Linked DNA regions of Homo sapiens. The protein of the gene in region 3 interacts with the protein of the main gene of each other region in a biochemical or structural test. Each region holds a gene or a part of one and is shown on either strand. Other genes may lie near its edges.

Region 1 (7,857 bases), on a different chromosome or scaffold from region 3:
TTCTACAATGTATACGATTTCAACAAGTGATGATTCAGGGAAGTCATTTCCAAACTGAGGAAAAAGCAAGATCAAAAGTTAAAAACAGGAAAATGAATATCAGGTTCCCGGAAAAGGCAGGTGGATTTTTATGGTTGAGAGTCTAGAGATCACTGAGAATGGTACTAGAAAAGCAGGTTATGAAAAGCCCTGGGGCCAGGGTAGTGGCTCAGGCCTGTAATCCCAGCATTTTGGGAGGCCAAGGTGGGAGAATCACTTGAGGCCAGGTGTTCAAGGCTGCAGTGAGCCATGACTGCCCCTCTGCGCTTCAGCCCGGGCAATAGAGTGAGACCATGTCTCTTTTAGAAAAGAAAGAAAGAAAGAAATGTCCTGAATGCCGAAGAGTTGCTAACTTTATTCTTATAAGCCATGAAGAGCTACCAGTGGTTTTGCACCAAAGGCATAATAGGGAAGTTCAGTGTGGCAAGAGCACGGGAGACAGATTGAAGGGAGAAGGTCTATTTGCCAATCCAACTTTTCTTCCCACTCTCACCTGTCACTATTCTAACCCATAACCCATACCTTCACCTGGACAGTTTCCCTGGCCTTTGGCAGATGAAAGGAAGGGACTGAGAATGTAGGGAAGGATGTACAGAGTCCAGTGAGTGGGAAGACAGATCCTAAGACCCGGGTTGGACTTAGCTTCCGTCCCTGCCTGTGCCATCTCCTAGGCGGATAGCGTATGGATGGAAATGGACGATGAGGAGGACCTGCCTTCTGCTGAGGAGCTGGAGGACTGGCTGGAGGATGTCCTGGAGGGCGAGATCAACACAGAGGACGATGACGATGATGATGATGACTAGTTGCTATGGCAACCATCTTTCAGCCCCACTGGTCTTTTCATGCTCTCTCCTGCCTTCCCTTGTCCTTCCCTGAGTTCCTCCAGGGAGACTAGGTTATTCTCTGCCATAGAGCTAACTGGGGTCTATATGCTGGGTGCTGAGACACTGATCCCCCTCATTTGATGAGCAAATGAGCTACTTTTCCCTAGACACCAGGCCAGCTCTCTCTTATCTGACTTCTGTTTCTTATCCCATAACTTACTTGTATCTATTATGTGTCTCTTCCATCACTCTCCATACTCTTTCTTGTGATTCTCCTCTAGCCATATATATGGGCCCCATCTCTGTTCTGTTCCCTCCATCTATGCACAGCTTTCCCCCACTCTCTCTAATCCTGTATCTTTCTGACTGTCCTGTCCTTGGCCAGAAGGAAGGGAGAATACTGTGTTTGGGACTGTATCTCAGCAATCACTTGTTAATGTATTTGGGTCAAATGAGAGGCCTCAATAAAGACATCTGGGGCAGCATGAACAAGTGTATTTTGGTGAAGTCTCACCCCTATGGCAGGAGGAGGTGGCCACTGATGGGGAATTCAGATGTGGGTGCCTTGCTAGGGATGAGCTGGGGGACTCTTATAGTGGGGACTGGGGTTCCTCCAGGCAGCTTTCCCAGAGAAGCCTGGATTGTTAATCTGCTTCAAGTCAACAAGCCTTTTCTGAACACATGGTGTTTGTCCAGGGCCACTGTTAGGCTCTGGGAGAACAGAGAGTGCTAGGCCTGTCCCTGATCTTGAGCTGATTAGCCTCACGGAGAAGTCAAGACAAGCATACTAAACAATCGAAGAAGAATACAAAGCAATATGTAATTAAGTGATTATGTGCTGCTCGATAGCACCCTCTCTGCAGCTCTTATTTGAACATCAAGACAGAGCTCCAATTATACTTCCTTGGTGAAGCCTTCCCAGAGGTGGCCCCTCCAGTGATGACCTCTTCTGAGTTCCTGCTGCACTTCCATTCCAGTACTCAGCACAGTCTGTTATTGTTCTTCATTTACGTGTCTGTCTTCCCCACTCAACTGTGAGCCCCTTGAAGGCAGGAACCCAAGCTTTTTCTTTGTGTCCACAGGGTCTGACACTCAAAAGTTGTCCCTAGTAAATGTTTCCTAAAGGAAGAACAAAGGAAAGAACAGAATGAACTCAGAAGAGAGATCAGAGTGGGCTTGATGACTTCACAAAGGAAGTAAGCCTTTACTAGGCCTTAAATTGAAGAATGGGATTTGGTTGGAGACAAAGGAGCTGAGGAGGAGACATTTCAGTCAGTGGAAAACATCAAGTACTGGCAGGATATGTTTGTCATATTGGGGGCACAGAGACCAGAGAGACAAGAAGAAAAATCAAGTTGTGGCCATGAAGTTGGGTAAGCATAATGGGGCTGGGTTGTAGAGCTGTTTGAATTGAATCCTGCCAGCCGAGGAGGCAGGGCAAAATTTAATCTGGTAGCGATAAGCAGGATGGGGAGGGGAGATGATGGAGATGCCAGAGGTAAGGGGCCCAACCCATAATCAGTGACTGTTATAATAATTGGAGTGATGTTGGGAGAACATGGACCCAAGTGGTGGCCATGGGAATGGAGAGGAGATATTGTATACAATGGGGATCTCCCAGACCTGGGCCTGCTGGAGGTCTTGGCAAGAAGGACCCACAGTCTTTCCAGAATAGGCCCAGGCTGGGGTAAGCAAAAAGGAGTTTAGGGAGTTGGGGATGGGAGGGCCAAATAGCTAAATAAGCCCATAAATAATAAACATATACATATATAGTTTTGAGATGATGCCCATGAACAATAAACATTTTATATATATAATATATACAAATAGCTAAACAAGCCCATAAATAATAAACATTATATATATATTTTTGAGATGATGCCCATAAATAATAAACATTATATATATATACATATACATATATATGTGTGTGTATATATATATATTTTTTTCTTTTTTTTTTTTTTTTTTGAGATGGAGTCTCACTCTGTTGCCAGGTTGGAGTGCAGTGGTGAGATCTCGGTTCACTGCAACCTCCGACTCCCGGGTTCAAGAGATTCTCCTATCTCAGCCTCCCAGGTAACTGGGACTACAGGTGCCCACCACCACACTCAGCTAACTTTTTTGTAGTTTTAGTAGAGATGGGGTTTCACCATGTTGGTCAGGCTAGTCTTGAACTCCTGACCTCAGGTGATCCACCTGCCTCAGCCTCCCAAAGTGCTGGGATTACAGGCGTGAGCCACCACGCCAAGCCAACATTATATTTTTCATGGATCAGGTGTAAAGTTGTTGCTGAGAGACTTAGAGGATTTCTAAGTACGGAAAGATGAGACCTGAGATTAGATATATTTTCACTCTCCACAGACAAGTCCAGGAAGTGTTCCTAGAGAATGTGGCAGGGGTGTAGAAAGCAGAAACTATGTATTCATTCCAACTTGTAGCTATTTAATAAATGTTTAATAAGTAGTATGGGCACTAAGCTAGTCTTACAATAATATTGTGGAGCTTACTGTCTAGCATAGGTCAGTGGAAGGCCCCGGTCTAAATAATAGCTCCTATTTTTTAAGCACCCATCTGTGCCAGTCCCTAGAGACTTACTATTTCTGAATCTCAGAAGAACCCTCAGAAATAGACATTGGCACCCTGATCTGACCGGTGAGGACACTAAGGCTTTCAGGCATAACTTGCCCAAGGAATGGGTGGAACTAGCACGCAGCCCAAGGCCCCTGTGTCTTGTTGCCTCCAGACCTGAGCCTTTCACTTAGAAACTACATGAGTCTCAAAGATGGGTCAACGAAATAGTTTTTGTCCCTACAACACAGAGCAAACATGATATATACAAAGGCAAATGATTAGTGTGTGACAGGGAATGCTGGGGAGAGGAAACAGCAGAGAAATGCTATGAAACCCAGAGCAGCAGGAACTTGGGCCTCTTCTAGGAATGGTGTAGACCCAAGAAAGGAGGGGCTCGTTTGAGGTTTCTGGAGGAGTCTCTGCCAGGTAGGAACTGAGATGAGATGGGTGATCCTGGAAGTGGCACAAACACTGAGGGGAATCCCCCAACCTGGGCCTGCTGGAGTTCCTGGCAGGAAGGACCTACCCAGGGTCAGACTTCTTTCCAGGGCCAAACCCTGCCCAGAGCTGAGGCAAGACCCCTTAGGCTATAGAGATGGGGGTGAAAACAGATGCTTCTCCAATTCTTCCTTTCCTCTTTTCAGTCTGGCTGAGAATCTGGGGGAGGAAAGTCCCTGGGGTAGAGGGGAAGTGAGAGCTGCCACATTGGGCCTGGGCAGAGGGGCAGAGCTAGGAGATGGAGCTAAGTGTGGCTTTGCAAGTTGTCTATATTTGCATGCTGAGCTCACTGCTGCTCTTTTTCTCCCCAGAAAATAAAATTACATCATGGTAGGGGGAAGGCAGGAGTGGGGCATGTTTGGGAAAGGTGAGAGGCACGCAAGAGGGCCTGAAGGCATCATCCTGGAAAGAGAAGATCCAGGGCTCCTCAAGTCCCCATGTGGCCCCAACCCCTCACTCCCAATGTGGATAAGTCTGATCAGTCATTTTCCACTGCGCCCCTGACCCTTAAGGCAAGGCAAGAAGTTTTTACAAATATTAAAGCCAGCAGCTAAGAGAATCCAGCCCCCAAAGGCTTTCCAACCCCCTAAACCAAACCTACTCTGTGCCTCCCAGGGGTCCTAGGCACCGTGGTCATCCAAAGGTCAAAAGGGGAGGAGGGTGCCCTACTGGGTAAGAATTAAATATGAGAATTGTTTCGCAGTTCAGGGGGAAGAGACCGTCTCCGCTCCAGCCCTCCGCCCAATTCTGTCCCCCATCCTAGGAGTCTTCCAGAACCCCAGCCCCTCGGTCCCCCGCCCCCTCCTGCCTCTCCATCCCTCCCCCTCCTCCCGCCATTCCCCGCCCCCCGCCCCTCCCCGGCTCTGACATCACCGGCCAGCCGGGTGGAGTGAGCGGCGCTGGGCTCGGGCTCCGGCTCCGCGGGCGGAAGAGGCGGCGGCGGCGGCAGAAGCGGCGGCGGCGGCGGCGGGAGCCGAGGAGGAGGTTCCGGACGCTGCTTAGGAACCGGGGACTCAGGAGTGCCCGCGCCCTGAGCGCTCAGCTCCAGAGGCGGTGAGAGGGGCGGAGAGGAGACATGTCGCGGGGAAGGGGCAGATTTCGGGGTCTAGGCTTGGAGGGGCAACGATCTGGGACACCGGGGGCCAGACGGGGAGTGTGGGGACCCCGGACGAGTCCACTTTGTGTCAGGCCTCACGGGGTCCGTCCCTCGGTCGGTGCGTCCCGAGCGCCGAGCGTGTGCTGGAGGCGGCGTGGCTCCGGCCAGCCCGTTCCACGCTGAACGGCAGTTTGGGAGTCGGACCGGGGCCTGTGGATTAGGATGCAGCCTGCTTCCCGCCCAGCCGGCTCGGCCAGGCCAGCGCCCGCCCCTCCCTCCCCGCTCAGGCTTCGGACTCGCCTCCGCTGGCGGTCTCCCGGCCCAGCCCTGTCTCGGTTCCGCGGGCGGCTGGTACCATGTGCCCTCACCCCCAGCTCACTGCACCTGGGGAAGAGGTGGGCTTGGCGGAAAGCTTGTCCAGAGGGAAGGAGGAGCTGGGGGTGTAGAGAAGTGATGTATATCTAACGTAAAAACCCTTATTAATTTCATATAATCCGTGTCAAAACTGACAGGGAAACACGCACACCTATAAGGCACGCCAGCACACACAGTGACACACACCCATGTGACTTATACACATAGTCTAGCACACTCCAAATCACAAACGTCCCTGGACTACGCATCCGGCCGCCCACCACACCCCCACTCTGTGGGGTGGGGCATCCCATGAGGAGTCTTCTGAACTGCGGGCTCCAAGTCATCAGTCCGACAGGACAGCTGAGTGGACAGAAAGGGCCACTGTCCCCAAATCCATCCTGATTTTCTGGCAGCTTTTCCCAGCCCCATGGTTTCAGATTGTTCCTCTTTAAAACTGTGGGGAAAGATGGGAGAAAATCTTGGTCTCATTCCTCTAACACAAGGAGACAGGATTTTGCGGACTAATGAGGGTAGGGGCTTCTGGTGGCTTCTCTTCCTGGGTCCAGTTAGGGCTTAGCGTGCTGGGAGTGGCTAGTTTCTGGGTAAGAGTGGCCAAGGGATGGAGGAGGAGGGGGTGGAAGAAACGGAGAGGAAAAAGAATGGGTATGAGTCAGCCAAGAATGGAACCCAAGTCAGAGAGAGAATGAGAGGAATGTGTGTGAGAAGCAGACAGACATCTCCAGAGAGGTCTAGAGATAGTCAGGGAACCAGGGAGAGGGAGGAAGTGAGAGAAAGAGATGGTCAGAGAAGTGCAAACAGTGTTTGAGAGTGCACTAAACAAATTAGGGAGGATGAAGGTTGGGGGAGACCACTGGGAGTTAGGGAAAGTGGTACGTGTGTCTGGGCCCCAGGCTGTCAGAGCGATTAGCTTTAATTGCTCTTCCCTTTGTGGTTAAATACTCCATTGGGGAAATTGCCAGTGATGCCCTAGGCTGCAGGCTTCCCTGGTTGCCTACTTCCTCAATTCCGTGCCCATCATGTGTGGATGTATTATCATGCATGAAGAGGGTCACAGAATCACAGAGCGCCTCACTCTCTCACACAGATCCTCACGCACAATGTCATGATGGATATCTTCACCAGCTGGTAGGCAGCCAACCACTGAATCTCCAAGCCACTCCGACCAAACTTACTCTGTCTTTTGTAGCAGGGATGCTCACCCCTTCCTAATTGCAGCTCCGAATATTCAGATGGGGACAGTGAAGCACAGATCTCAGGAGTCCTAAGTATTCATGGCTACCACTAAGTTGGATAGGTGAGTAGGAAATGCTAGAAGGGGTGAAAGCCTATAGAAAGGAGGAAAAGAGAGACTGAAAGATGAAGTAGAAAGGAAATGCATGACAAAGAGTGAGAGAGATGGAGAGAGACAGAAATAGAAGCAGGGAGTGCCACACCAGAAGAGTGGAAACAGAGATGGGCTGGGGAGAGTCCTAGGCCCCATTCCCCTCCTCGCCATCAGCCGGCCCTCCTCTGCTCTGCCTGATCCAGTGCCAGCTATCTCCTGATGCCCCATCTTGGGTCTGGCTCTTTCTAGACCAAGGGCTGAAGGCTAATCCTTGTCCCCATGCCCAAAGGTAATCCATTTTGCTTCTTGGACTGAAGTGAACATTTTAGGGCCCAGATGTCCTGCCTCTCGTCACTTCCAGGCTGACCCTGGAGCCTCAGAACCCTCAATTTCCTTGTTACAGGAGTAAAGACAACCCCCTCCTCCCCCACAAAGCTGGATAAAAAGCTTAAAGAAGAAATTAATTGAGAATGATATTAAAGGAAATAAACTACAGGACTGCTTGAATTTGGGGCCCAGTTATAATTTAAAATAGGAAAGCTGGACCCCTACTCTCTCCCTTCCAACCCCTCTGCCTCTCCGTGATTACTTCCAACTTCAGGCAGAAGACTGACAGACTTGAGTGCCTGGGAGTCCCCTCCTGCCCAATACAGGGACCTCTAGGTCCTTGCAGCTGTCTGGGATGGCCCCTCCCCTCAGGCTTAGGCAGCTGCAACAGATGTGGAAGAGGGACGGGCAGCAACTCTTAATCTTCAGGCTTCCTTCTCGAATTTACAGAGGATTTGGAACCAAACGTTAGAAGGGATAATCTACCACGACTTAATGTCAAAATGCACAGAAATTCTTTTGGTGCTGCCACCTCCTCCACAGGTGGTTATCCCAATTGCCAGGCTTCTCAAAGCACTCCCAGGGCCTGGCTCTTCTTACCCCAGTGCCCATGGAGCTCCCACCTGTCCCACCCTAAAAGGTCAGTATATAATGGTCCTTACCTCCTGCCCCTCTTCCCCAGCATCCTCAGTTGGTTTGACCTTTGTCAGGGCTGTGCCTGGGGCCAGCTTGGAAGGAGAGGGAGGCAGGAAGGAAGGAAGGTGTGAGGAAGCGGTGAGCCTAGCACAGAAAGCTGG
Region 2 (6,484 bases), on a different chromosome or scaffold from region 3:
CCCATCCCACAAAGGTCTGCCCCACAGAGGTCCACCCCACAGCCTATGGAGGAGCACAGGGGACAGGCCATGTGGGATGAGCCAGTGGACTGGAGGCAGAGGCTGTCGGGGTGAGGCAGGGCCGCAGCCAGGCACCTGCCACCTCTGAGCTCACCTGAACAGAATACTGCCACTGCCTGCCACCTCCTGGGTCATGCAGCAAGTGTCTGGGGAGGGATGTCTGAGGGCACACACGTGGGCACAGCAGCCCTGGGCACTGCCTCCACTGAGCACCCCTGTGGGCAGGTGCTGTCCGCGTCTGGCAGAGGACAGGGTACACGCATGGGCACAGCAGCCCTGGGCACTGCCTCCACTGAGCACCCCTGTGGGCAGGTGCTGTCCATGTCTGGCAGGGGACAGGGCACACGCGTGGGCACAGCAGCCCCGGGCACTGCCTCTGCTGAGCACCCCCGTGGGCAGGTGCTGTCCGGGCCTAGCAGGGGACAGTCCGTCTTGGCCCACACGGCTCATGCAGCAGAAGTAAATTTCACCCAGCACAGAGCGAGGATTCCCAGAAGGTCCTTGTGCCTCCAGCTTCATCAGCTTTAGGTCTGGGATTCTCATTCCTGACCCTCCAGTCTGCACAGATCGGGGAGACACAATGAGGAGTTTTGAGGGAAGCAAAGCAAAGGGTGGGCAGGGCCTGGGAGCGCTGCGATGGCCGCCTGGCCCCCGTCTCTGGGCAGCTTCCATGTGGCTCAGACAGTCCTCCAGCGGCCTGACGGTGACCTAGGGCCCAGCCCTGAGCCAGCCTGGGGAGGACACAGGGGGTCTCTGCTGGAGCAGGTCACCTGGAGGGGGCTCTGACCCTGCGTGAGCACTAGCCCCTCGTGGGGAGCGGACGGGCGAGGGCCTGCGGACCCGCTGGCACAGGCAGACCTGGGCAGCTCCCGGTGAGAGCCCCGAAGGGTGGGGACGTCCTTCAGGGAAGCCCCACGCTGAGCGTGCCCCCTCCCCTACAGCCGCGTCATGACGTACCGGGAGCACACAGCCTGGGTGGTGAAGGCCTCCCTGCAGAAGCGTCCCGACGGCCACATCGTGAGTGTGAGGTGAGGAGCGCCGATATTTAGCAGCCGTTCTGCTGTAAAAACATTATTTTCCCCTCCATTTAAAATACGTCCTTGGTATTTAAACAGCTGGAAGGGGATGGCATTTCGGGCAGTAATTAACTCCTGCCCTGGAACTGGCCAGAAAGATCAGGCGCAGCCCGTAGGGGCCCAGGGGCCACAGCTGCTCCCCTGCTGGGGGACACCTGACCTGCAGGCGCTTTGGGAACTTTCCTGGGCTGCCAACTGCGGAGGGTTCCGGGGGGAGTTGGGCAGCTGCTCTCCCTCCACGGGCAGGGGTGGCAGGGTGGCAGGGGCGGCGCGTCTGCCAGGCACGTGGCAGTTGTCTGCACATAAATTCAGTTCTGCCTCTTGGTAAATACAGCACCAAGAGCAGGGAATATTTATTTGCCTATTAAAGGAAGAGCAAGATGTAATTTATGAATGCAAAGCCAGCATTTCTTCAAAGAGATGCTCTTTTCCCCCTTGTTTGTGATATAAAAACCAAACATAACTCTTGGGATGGACGCCTGCTGGGGGTGGAAGGCAGGAGCCACGGGGCCTCAAAAGGGCCAGGCCATCCCTCTCTCGGGCCACAGCCTGCCATCCAGGCTCTGTCTCCCGGGACTGCAGGCCCCGGTTGCATGAAATCTAATCTCTAGCTGGAAATGAAACCAGGAGCTCACAGCCTCCTCCCGCATCTGTGCTCATGGTCATTTCTCTAGGCCAGAAAGCTCCGCGCCTTTTCTGGCTCTGAGAGAGCTTGTGGGGGACAGCCTTGGCCCTGAGACCAGTATGGGTGCATGTCTGGGCCCCACCTGGGCAGCCCTCACTGGGGACGCTGAGCATCCAGGCAGCTTTTTCCTTGAGCAGTGTGTGTGCAAACAGGTGTGCGACCCCACACACCTGGTTCCACCGTCCCCCTGGCCAGGCCCCTCATGGGGCCTCCGGGAGGAGGTGTCACTGTGACCCTCTCTTGGCAGCGTCAATGGAGATGTGCGCATCTTTGATCCCCGGATGCCTGAGTCGGTAAATGTGCTTCAGATCGTGAAGGGGCTGACGGCCCTGGACATCCACCCCCAGGCGGACCTGATCGCATGGTAGGCGCCACCCACCTCCCTGGCCTGCACCGCTCACCCGCCTCGGGCCTCTGTGCAAACGGGAGGCTCTTGTGTTCCTGCCCCCAGGAGCTGAAGGAGGGCAGGGGAGGATTTCACTGCTGTGGGGACATAAAAACAAAAGATGTCTGCCCACCACATCCTCCCAGGATAAACTCTCAGGGCCCTGCCAGGCCCGAGTCCTCAGTGAGAGTGACCAGAGGGTCACACCTGCCCCGAGCCAGCCTGTCCCCGTGGTCTAGCCGGCCTGTCCCCGCGGTCTCGGCATCTGCGCCCATCTTCCATCCTCAAAGAAGAGGGCAGTGATGCCGGGACCCTTTCTCTCCCCACAGTGGCTCCGTCAATCAGTTCACCGCCATCTACAACAGCAGCGGAGAGCTCATCAACAACATCAAGTACTACGACGGCTTCATGGGCCAGCGGGTCGGCGCCATCAGCTGCCTGGCCTTCCACCCGCACTGGGTCAGTGTGGCGGTGGGTGGGGGTCGGGGGTCGGGGGCTGGGGTAGAGGGATGGGAGGCAAGGGGACAAGGCAGCAGGGGTCCTGCCTGGCTACCCCACACCACAGTGGGGCCCATTGGCTGCCTGAGGGAGGGACTTGCCTGGGTCCCAGGATCTCTAGGGCCCCTGCCCCACCCTGCACTCGCCCCGGAAGCAGAGCCCCAGTCCCGTCACTCCGGGAGGAATTGACACACAGTGGCTGGGGCAAAGCTCCTGCCCTCAGACCCTGCACTAAAGCCATCCCTGGGGACCTCCAGGAGAGTCGCTCGGGGTGTCCATCCCTGTGCGGCCCTCACCCCGTCCCCTGTGCGGCCCTCACCCCGTCCCCTCTGCGGCCCTCACCCCGTCCCCTCTGCGGCCCTCACCCCGTCCCCTGTGCGGCCCTCACCCCGTCCCCTGTGCGGCCCTCACCCCGTCCCCTCTGCGGCCCTCACCCCGTCCCCTCTGCGGCCCTCACCCCGTCCCCTGTGCGGCCCTCACCCCGTCCCCTGTGCGGCCCTCACCCCGTCCCCTCTGCGGCCCTCACCCCGTCCCCTCTGCGTCCCTCACCCCGTCCCCTCTGCGTCCCTCACCCCGTCCCCTGTGCGGCCCTCACCCCGTCCCCTGTGCGGCCCTCACCCCGTCCCCTCTGCGGCCCTCACCCCGTCCCCTCTGCGGCCCTCACCCCGTCCCCTCTGCGGCCCTCACCCCGTCCCCTCTGCGGCCCTCACCCCGTCCGCTGTGCGGCCGAGTCCTCACCCTGTCCCCTGTGCGGCCGGGCCCCACCTGCACGGCTCTCTGGCCTTGGTTGCAGCCTCCCCACGTGGCTTCAGGCCGTTGTTTTTAGATTAGGATTCTGCCCACCTGCCGCCTTGTGTTGTGAGGCTCCAGGCATGTAGCTCTGCTGACACGTGTGACATTGGATCCCAGAGCTGCCCCGTGGGGCAGTCCTGAAAAAACCACGCAGGGCCCGGGGCAGCGCCACGCCCCTCACGGAGTGCACCATGCATGGGCCCTGCAGAGGACTGGTGGGACCGGCCCGGCATTTCCGGGCCTGAGGTGGGCGTGGGGGTTCCTGAGACCCCGGCAGGAGCTGCCTAAGGATGCGGGTTGGCCTGCGCCCCCCCGCCCCCCGCAGTGTCTGCCCGCACCTGAACCCCTGCTCACCCCTTCTCTCTCCTTGCAGCCTCACCTGGCCGTGGGAAGCAACGACTACTACATCTCCGTGTACTCGGTGGAGAAGCGTGTCAGATAGCGGCGTGACCCGGGCCCACCAGGCCACGGCCGCCTGCTGTACATAGTGAAGCTGTCACTCGCCGGGGCACGGGGCGTCGGCTGCTGCGGCCCCGCAGTGTGAACGTTGGCTGCTGCCTTAGCTGCTGATGACGGCAGGAGGGCCCTGCTACTCGCTTTTGTCTGTCTTCGCTGTCGTGTCTGGAATGTCAGGGAAGGGGAGGGCTCGGGTTGACGGTGGCTTCCCACTGAGCACCAGCATCCAGGTGCACCCCCGCGGCCACGGCGCCTCTGTCCCTCTCCTGTTCTGTGTTTCTCTGAGACGCTGAAAGGGGAAACACCTCACTTTATTTCCATGTAATCAGAGCATTAGCTGCAGAAAAACCCCCCGACAGAGCCCTGGCGGAGAGGCAGGCGCTGGGGCTCCTACGGGTCCCTGGGGCAGCTGTCCCCATCAGGCCAAGAGCGAGCGAGAGGCGCTGCCCCAGCCAGGCCCACCACCTCTCACAGTCAGTGCACGCAAGCAGGGACATTTCCTAGCCAGCTGGGGGACACTGGAAATTCGGGAAACCAAGAGAGAGGAAGAAGGAGACGCCCCTCCAACTGGCGGGTGTGAAGGAAGCCGCCCAGGGGTCCGGGCTGTCCTTGGCCGCTGGCAGCATCACTGAGCAGGAAGCGCACAGCCCACCCTCCCCGCACCTCCAGGTCTCTGGACTCCAGTTTTGGCCCCTCTCACACAGAGCTGTCAGCAGGGGCCGCTGTGGCGGTGCACAGGGGAGGCAGGTCCTTGGCGAGGTAGCCCCTGCCTTAATCCACGGGGCTCCTTTCCCTCCGAAGGGCTGCTCTTCCCCACAGGCGCGGGGACAGCAGCCCGACCTGTGGTCTCCATGCCTGTGCCCTCACACAGGTGTAGCACACGCATGTGCAGATGGCACCACGGCCGGCACCTGGGGGCACACACATGCAGGCGGCGTGGTCTCCCTGCTCTGTCCCCACACGTTCCTCACATACAGGCAAGAGGCACTGCCGGGTCCCGGACGGCTCCGGGTGACACCAGCCCCGTCTCCAGCCTTGAGCCGCCCATGCTGATGCGACCTCGGCTGACAGCTGGGCCTGTGGTGCAGACAGGAGCTGTGTGGACAGTCCCGCCCAGGAGGGGCCGCAGGGCGTGTATGAGCAGTTTTGCAAACAGAACACAACCACAATGATGGTATTTTGAAAAGTGTTCTTTCCGTGTTCGTCGGGAATCAGGATTATTGAGAGGTGAAGGAGCCAGGTGGCTTCATTCTGGCGGTGAGAGGCCCACGACCACGGGAGTGAGAGCTGGTGTGGCGAGGCCCGGCTCTCCTGCGGTGTGGCTGGTGGCCTGCCGTGGCCAAGAGCATCTTCTGGGTGGATGGAACCCTGCCTGGTCACATTTGGCCAGAGACACACCTGGCCCTCAGGGGGCTGAGCTGGAGACTGAGCTGGGGCTGGCCGGGACGTGACAAGGCAGGACAGAGGCGGCCCCTCCGCTGCTCCTTTTTGGAATGCGAGCTCCCACCAGAAGAAGGTTCCGGCACGAATCCCATCCCCACGTCTGGGCCGAGAAAGCAGCCCGGGTCCGGAAGGTGTAGAGAGTCCCGGCCTCACTCAGCTCACAGGGCGTGCCAGGCGGCAACACCAGAATCTTCCAGAAGCCCAGCTCCACCCGCACACGCAGCTTCCCATCCAGTCCTTCAACTCAATTCTTACCCAACACGCGTTTCTGTTTGTTTTGAGACAAAATCACCACCTGTCAAAAGGCAGGTGGCTCCAGAGGGGTCAAGACCCCCCCCCGCCCCCGCTCCACCCTGGAGCCCACCCCCATGGGCACCGCGTGCCGCCTGCACGTGGGCTGTCTTCACAGGTCTGATGTGAAAATTCAATCACGACGTTAACCGGCTCGAGAGAGCGCCGGCCTAGAGGCTCATTATCTATTTATTTTACCAAACGCGAATTGAGACGGACTTTGACAAAACACGAAATGGTAATGTGAAGCTAAGAGCAGAGAGTGACCAACAGTAAACAACACGCGCAGACTCCGCGGCTGGCGGCTGTGTCTTTAAGGAAACTGCCCACCCCACCTCAGGGGGGCATCGGTCAGAGCAGAGCTCTGGGGGGTGGGGGGACGTTGCCCGGGTCCCCCCTGCTGTCCCCAGGGCCACCAGCAGCTCTGCGTCCCGGGTGCTCTCCAGGCAGGCACTGTGGCCACAGGGGGCCTGGCACGTCGAGTGTGCAAAGGTCTCGGTCCTTTTCTCCCAGGCAGTGCCCCCAGCCCTGTGGCGCAGACCCCACATCAGGGAGCGTACTGTGTGGCAAGAGCCATCTTGTGACGTAGGCCAGACACGTGTCTTTCTCTTTAAAATGACGGTTATCCTCTCACGGTTAGAGGCCCCATTCAAGTCTGCATTGAAATCTGGGCCACGTCAGAGTTCCTGGGGGAGAAGCCGCTTCCCCGCTCCTCCCCACTTCTGGAGGCCCCCACTCTCCTTGGCTCGTGGCCCCTTCCTCCAGTTCAGGGCCTCTGACCCACGCCCACCGTCACCA
Region 3 (7,513 bases):
CATTATGGGACTCTTCACCAATTTATAATTTTTTGTAGCAGTTACACAGGAACAGTATTCAGTTTACTGATGGATATGAAGTAAAAGAAGATATTGGAGTTGGCTCCTACTCTGTTTGCAAGAGATGTATACATAAAGCTACAAACATGGAGTTTGCAGTGAAGGTAAATTTTTTTTATTTAAAATGCAATTCATACAGTTCTTGTTCATGCATGTCAGTACCAGTTAAAAATTACACTCCCCTTGTTGTTAAAAGTGCCTTTTGTTATAAAAAAGTTAAATATCTGGCTAGTGATCTTCAGAGATCTTAATCTAGAACCCTGTGAGCTAAAGGTAAGGTGGTTATATATCTAGTTTTCCCAGAGCAGTAGCAGTTTACACCTCAAGTGATTTTTTTTCTTTTTTTACCTCAAGTGATTTTTAAAGTATCTTTTTACTCTGAGAAGTCCCCATTTTATGCTCAGGGTGTCAGCAAATTCCTCAAAATTGTGTGCAAAATTTTGTATGTTTACATCTTCTCTGGCAAAAAGTTCATACCTTTCTTTGCATCTAAAAGGATCTGGGAACTAATGAATAAAAACCACTATCATAAAATTCGTTATCATTGGCTGTTTTAATTTCATCAAGTATCCTAAGACAGAATTTTCTAAGCCAAAAACCAAGGAACCTAGCTCTACGATAAAGTTTGAATTTCAAACCTTTAGTCGTAAGTGAACAAGCACTATGTTCAAGTCTCTTTTCACTTCTTGGAATAGTAACCTCTGCTCTCCAATCTCAAGCAATTCAAACAATGTCTAAAGCTTTCAACTTGTTTGAACCTTAGGACTGGTTTATAAATATACATAGCTCATGTTTAGAGAGATAGTGACATTAGTTGTTATCACTCTTCTAAACTTAGATGTAACTGCTTTAAAGTCGTCAGTGTCTATAGGGCTTTCTGTCAGATAGAAGGATGAACCATAAAAATACATTTAATTTGCTTCATTGGAAGGACAATAAAGCTAATTTTAAAGAAGGAAATTCTTAAAAGAAATACATTTAATTTTCTATTTTCCTATTCATTGCTCTTACTGAAATCTAAGATACATAGAAGTTTTCAAATTGCTTACATGAAAGGAGAAAAGACTAATAATGTATTTGGTAGGCAGTTTAAGGATGTGTCTTGCCTCCATAAATACATCATAAAAAGCAGAAATGTCCTGAGGCCCCTTTGAATTACAGAAACCTTGAGGACTATGCCTAAAACCTCAAAAATATCTCCAAGCTATTTGTGGATTTTTGTAACTTAAATGATTCATAAAACCAATCCCAACACAACTGGATTCTACTGAAATTACCACATATTTGAGGTCCACAAGCACAAGTATAGATCTAATGCAAACTGGGCTCAGATTAGCAGATCCATGCCAAAAACGACCCCTCCCAGTGTGTTCTGGTTTTCAAAAGACTAGTCCCAGGTCATCTCTTAAATTAGCATGTCTATTCCATATACCTCTCCTCTTAATCACCCATTTGCCTAATTCCACACTATCATTTGCAGTTGATTACAGTGGGCACCTGTATGTTTACCTTCCCTGTTCTCCAAATACAGAACTGTTATACAAGTACAGTCTACCCTTGAATAACACAGGACTTGGGAGTGCTGATCCCCAAGCAGTTGAAAATCCACGTATAACTTGACTCTCCAAAACTTAACTGCTCATAGCCTACTGTTGACCAGAAGCCTCACTGATAGCATATATAGTCGATTATTTTGTATGTTATATGTATTATATACTGTATTCTTACAATAAAGTAAGCTAGAGAAAAGAAAGTGTTATTAAGAAAATCATGCCAGACATAGTGTCTCACGTTTGTAATCCTAGCACTTTGGGAGGCCGAGGTGGGAGGATTGCTTGAGGCCAGGAGTTTGAGACAAGCCTGGGCAACAGAGCAAGACCCTATCTCTACAGAAAAATTGTTTAAAAATTAGCCAGGCGTGGCTACATGTGCCTGTAGTCCCAGCTACTCAGGAGGCTGAGACGGAAGGATTGCTTGAGCTCAGGAGGTTCAGGCTGCAGTGAGCTATGTGCCACTGTACTCTAGCCTTGGCAACATAGCCAGACCTCATCTCTACAAATAATTTTTAAAATTTTCTGAGTGTAGTGGTATGTGCCTGTGGTCCCAGCTACTCAGGAGGTAGAGGTGGGAGGATCACTTGGGCCCAGGGGTTTGAGGTTGCAGTGAGCCGTGATTGCGCCACTACACTCCACCCTGGGCAACAGAGCAAGACCCTGTCTCAAAAAAAGAAAAAATATATATAAGGAAGAGAAAATACATTTACTGTTCATTAAATGGAAGTGGATCATAATAAAGGTCTTTTTCCTCATCATTTTCACCTTAAGTAGGCTGAGGAGGGAGGAAGAAGAGAAGGAGTTGGTCTTGGTGTCTCAGGGGTGGCAGAAGCAGAAGAAAATCCACGTGTAATTGGTCCCTCATAGTTCAAACCTGTGTTGTTCAAGGGTCAACTATAAATCCATTTCAGATAGAAGACTGGACCCATGCTTGAGAGTTGTAACCTCTTTCCTAGGTTGCTGGAGTGTCTGGGTATTTAGTGCATACTTAATTACTAAGCTGTTTAAAATTGAACATACAAAGGCCACCTAATTTGTTTCAGACTACCCTTTGAATGAATAGAAAGCAAAATTTGTCTTTTTTATATAATATTAGTTGAGCAGATTAAAACATTAAGAAAAATATTTTTAAGGAGCAGCCAATATAAAAGGGTTAGAAAGCTACATTACTATTTTAAAGGGCTTTATTATAATAATTAAACCAAATTCTAACCAAATAAAATGCTAGGTATGATTTTCTATGTAGCTTTCTGCCTAACTTCAAAAACAAGATTGTTCTACTTAGCAGATAATTAGCTTTTATAAGTAGCTTACAGCTAACAGGATATTCAATTGAAGCATTTTATTAAAGGAAGTAAACTTAATTCAATAAGCAGATGCTAGTGGTGGTGTTATATCTAGCTCTTAATTATCTGTATTGATGGGGGGTTAGAAGTTGACTGAGTTCCCAAATGTTTAAGGCCTCAAGGATAGAAGAAAAGATATGTTAACTGTGTTCTTGGTACCTTTTCTCGAGGCTTTTTGAGTTTTTGGTTAAGTCCTAAACTTACTACAAACTTACAAACTTAGATTGGAGAGGCATGGTGGGAATGCGACTCATGAGTTAGAATTTACAGCCTTGCCATCTATATCAAGACTGGCTTTCTGATTAAACAATCTGGCCAGGTAGTTGAATAAAACTGACTGATAAATGGCTTATTTATACACTATTTACATGAGGTAATACCCAAGGTCTGTAGCTATAAACAATTAATGTTTATAACTGTATAGTTGATGAGGTTTTGTGATAAACATTTGCCTTTTAGATTATTGATAAAAGCAAGAGAGACCCAACAGAAGAAATTGAAATTCTTCTTCGTTATGGACAGCATCCAAACATTATCACTCTAAAGGATGTAAGTAGATTCTTTAATATGGATCATTTGAATCAGTTGTCTAACTCACATTGAAAGTAGTGTATTTTCAAAAATCATGTGGTAGACAAAGAACTCATCATAGGCTGGGCACAGTGGCCCACGCCTGTAATCCCAGCAGTTTGGGAGGCCAAGGCAGGAGGATCACTTGAGGCCAGGAGTTCAAGACCAGCCAGGTCAACACAGTGAGATCTCCATCTCTACAAAAAAAAATTTTTTTTTAATTAGCCAGGCCGAGCACAGTGGCTCACACCTGTAATCCCAGTACTTTGGGAGGCTGAGGCAGGAGGATTGCTTGAGCCCAGGAGTTCAAGACCAGCCTGGGCAACATAGGGAGACCCTGTCTCTAAAGAATATTTAAAAATTAGCCTGACATGGTGGCTCATGCCTATAGTCGCAGCTACTCTGGAGGCTGAGGTGGGAGGATTGCTTCAGCCCGGCAGGTCAAGACCTCAGTGAGCAGTTATCGCACCACTGCACTCCAGCCAGCGCAGCAGAGCAAGACCCTGTCTCAAAAACAAAAACAAAACAAAACAAAATTCAACATGGTAAGTTTAAAAAGTAGATTTGAAAACAATTTATATGTGTATATGGCATAATTTCATTTATCAATAAAGATATGTTTGTACAGTTATTTTTTTCTACTTTTGCTTTAAGAAGAAAAGTACTTACGATATTATTGCTTTTAATATCTGCACTTACTTGAACACTTACCTAAATGTTCAGTGTTAATATTACTATTAGTTCATATTCAATATTGACTAGTCTCACTCTCCAGACTACCCCAAAGTATCTTCCACATTACTAGAAAAGAGATCTAACACTCATAACTACCCATTTAACTTCCCTGCCTACAGTCTAAAGTCCCCAGCCGCTTAAGACCCTGCCTTCCTCTGTAGTTTTCAGACTTCTCACACACCCTTTCTCATACACCTGATGCTCTGTGTTCTAGTATGTAAATTTCTTGCGCATGCCTCATTTTCCATGCTGTTATGTCTGAATTTATAGTTCCCTCAGTTGCCAACACCATCTATTTTCTTTACCTGGCTAACTACCACACATATAAGATTTTGCTAAGGCACTGCTTCTTCCAGGAAGCCTGCCCTGCCCATTGCCACCCCCAGGACAAGTAAAGTATCTTTCCCTGGACTGTCATGATAACCCTGTTGCCTATGTCTCTCTTGACTTTTATTATAACAAAGTGTTGGCAAACAGTGTGAACTCCCCAGGTAGTGTTAAGTCTTCTCTTGCTAATGATGCTCAATAGGCCCAAAGGCCTTATCTGGGGGTTGTCAAAACTCAAATTTCCTCAGATTATCCCTGCTCATGGAGACACAGCAAAAGCTCGTCTCTACAAAAAATGCAAAAATTAGCCAGGTGTGGTGGCATGCGCCTATAGTCCCAGCTACTTGAGAGGCTGAAGTGGGAGGATCGCTGGAGCCCAGGAAGTGGATATTGCAGTGAGCCAAGATTGTGCCAGTGCACTCCTGGGCGACAGAGTCTGTCTCAAAATAAATAAATAAATAAAATTTGTCTTGAATATGAAGTGAGTTTAATTTTTCCTTTATATTTTAAACTTCGTTTTGGGCACATATAGTTTCAAATAATATTTACATTTTGATGTTGAAATTTATAGGTATATGATGATGGAAAGTATGTGTATGTAGTAACAGAACTTATGAAAGGAGGTGAATTGCTGGATAAAATTCTTAGACAAAAATTTTTCTCTGAACGAGAGGCCAGTGCTGTCCTGTTCACTATAACTAAAACCGTTGAATATCTTCACGCACAAGGGGTAAGTCTTTTTACCACTCTATATGTACATACACACACTTTTTTCCTTTATGTTTGAGCTAGAATTAGATAGAAATTACTTTATGCCTGAAATGGAAAATAACTGCTATTAGCTGAATTATCCTACTGACCTTCCTCTATATAAACTTTTATTATTGAGATTGAAGTGTACCTTTGATATCCTAGCTTGTTTATGTTAAACTCTTGTGCTTCCAAGAAAAAGTAAGTGATCTCTTCCGACCTGGAAAACATAGCATTGTTTCTGCTAGGTCACTCTGTACTCATGAAAACCAGGCCCACTTCAGGTTAGAAGCAGAACCAAGGAATCCTGGTTTGTATTCATGTATAAAAGGAAATCCTTAAAACAATGAGGCCAAGGAGTCACATGCTTCGGCTGGTGGATATGCTCTTCGTTCTTCTTGTATGCAGATTTTTAGTAAACAGCAAAAGAAAATTGTATTTCTAGGCTGGGCACGGTAGCTTATGCCTGTAATCCCAGCATTTTGGGAGGCCGAGGCAGGCAGATCACTTGAGGTCAGGAGTTCGAGAAAATCGTATTTTTAAAACAAGGCGGCCGGGTGCAGTGACTCACGCCTGTAATCCCAGCACTTTGGGAGGCCAAGGTGGGTGGATCACCTGAGGTCAGGAGTTTGAGACCAGCCTGGCCAACATGGCGAAACCCTGTCTCTGTTAAAAGTACAAAAATTAGCCGGGCGTCATGGCTCATGCCTGTAATCCCAGCTACTCAGAAGGCTGAGGCAGGAGAATTGCTTGAACCCGAGAGGCGGAGGTTGCAGTGAGTTGAAATTGCACCACTGCACTCCAGCCTGGGCAACAGAGTGAGACTCCATCTCAAAAAAAAAAAAAAAAAAAAAAGAAGGGAAGTCTGGGAGGAAAGGAGAAAATGAGGGGAGGGAGGGAGGAAAGGAGAACAGCAGAGGAGTGAAGCAGAGGAGCAGAAAGCAAGGGGAAAATAAACAATTTTTTAAAAATTTTTTAGTTGACAAATTATGTATATTCATGGTATACAACATGATGTTTTGATACATGCATATATAAAAGATTACTTCTTAAGGAGTTCAGTTTCAATACATTCTTTTTGTTTTGTCTTTGCCCCTGAAAGCCAAGTAGAATGTGTTAATTCTGGAGCTTCCTGACTTCTAACTTATCAAGATTTGCCTAGTATTGTAACTTGAAATTAGTAGAACTCAGTAGTCACTGAGGAACTTATGACCTTGCAGTCATCAAAGTCTTCTGTGTTCTTTTCCCAATGCCTCATCAGTAATTCGTTATTAAAATAGTCTGGAGAAGTGATGTCCTGGATGTGAGGAACTAAATCTAATTTGATTGATTGGAACACAGACTCAGAATTTGGTGACAGAAGGCACACTTAAGTCTAAAAAGGAATGTCAGAGAAGCTTATGATAAAAAAGTACAGTAGTCCCCCACTAATCTGCAAGTTTGCTTTCTGTGGTTTCAGTTACCACAGTCAACCATTGTCAAAAATATTACAGTATTTTGAGAGACCACATTCATATAACTTTTATTACAGTATATTGTTACAAGTGTTCTAATTTATTATTAGTCATTGTTAATCTCTTACTGTGCCTAATTTATAAATTAAACTATATCATAGGTATATATATCTAGGAAAAAATATAGAGAGACTTCGGTATTATCCTCAATTTCAGGAATCCACTGGGGGTCTTGAAACATATACGCCACGGATAAGGGGGGACTACTGTACTCAGGTAGATCATTAAAAGAGGAAAATAATACAGAACTCTAAAGAAGAGGTTTCTTGCATGTGTAACACCTTGTATATCAAATAGGCAGTACCAAAAATAAAGTCCAGATTTGTTTTGGTTTTTTCCTTTTTACTCCTCAATGCCCTGTCTATTCCATTTAGTCTATCAGAATATATTTGTTGTGTATGTATCTTGTACGTGCTGTTCCTTCTAGTTAGAATGACTCTCCCTTACTGTTCTTATGGCTCATTCATTCTGTTCTTCAGCTATTGGATCAGATGTTACCTAATCTAGAGACCCTTCCTGACTGCCCTATTTAAAGTGACCTCCCTAGTTATGTCCCATCTCTCAACCTATTCTCTGCTTCCCCCAGAACTGTGTAAGCTCCTAGCATGGAAAGGCCAGGATCTCATGGGTCTTGTTCACCACGGTATCTACAGCAGCT

What was found. Proteins that work in one complex are often made in the same cells at the same time.
Region 1: the proteins of RPS6KA3 (region 3) and PEA15 form a complex in vitro, tested with the Homo sapiens proteins (2 studies listed by BioGRID).
Region 2: of the proteins of RPS6KA3 (region 3) and RPTOR, one has a biochemical effect on the other in vitro, tested with the Homo sapiens proteins (one study listed by BioGRID).

Annotation. Positions count from the first base shown.
Region 1 is NC_000001.11:160,200,535-160,208,391, forward strand, and holds the start of PEA15 (astrocytic phosphoprotein PEA-15), read left to right. Parts: upstream 1-4,849; 5' UTR 4,850-4,988; exon of another isoform or gene 4,989-7,857. Other genes in the region: CASQ1 (calsequestrin-1 precursor), read left to right, coding at 711-842. UniProt on the Homo sapiens protein: Blocks Ras-mediated inhibition of integrin activation and modulates the ERK MAP kinase cascade. Inhibits RPS6KA3 activities by retaining it in the cytoplasm. Inhibits both TNFRSF6- and TNFRSF1A-mediated CASP8 activity and apoptosis.
Region 2 is NC_000017.11:80,960,393-80,966,876, forward strand, and holds the end of RPTOR (regulatory-associated protein of mTOR), read left to right. Parts: intron 1-1,001; coding exon 1,002-1,088; intron 1,089-2,068; coding exon 2,069-2,185; intron 2,186-2,535; coding exon 2,536-2,665; intron 2,666-3,869; coding exon 3,870-3,938; 3' UTR 3,939-5,976; downstream 5,977-6,484. UniProt on the Homo sapiens protein: Component of the mechanistic target of rapamycin complex 1 (mTORC1), an evolutionarily conserved central nutrient sensor that stimulates anabolic reactions and macromolecule biosynthesis to promote cellular biomass generation and growth.
Region 3 is NC_000023.11:20,165,397-20,172,909, reverse strand, and holds part of RPS6KA3 (ribosomal protein S6 kinase alpha-3), read left to right. Parts: intron 1-38; coding exon 39-164; intron 165-3,418; coding exon 3,419-3,508; intron 3,509-5,162; coding exon 5,163-5,321; intron 5,322-7,513. UniProt on the Homo sapiens protein: Serine/threonine-protein kinase that acts downstream of ERK (MAPK1/ERK2 and MAPK3/ERK1) signaling and mediates mitogenic and stress-induced activation of the transcription factors CREB1, ETV1/ER81 and NR4A1/NUR77, regulates translation through RPS6 and EIF4B phosphorylation, and mediates cellular proliferation, survival, and differentiation by modulating mTOR signaling and repressing pro-apoptotic function of BAD and DAPK1.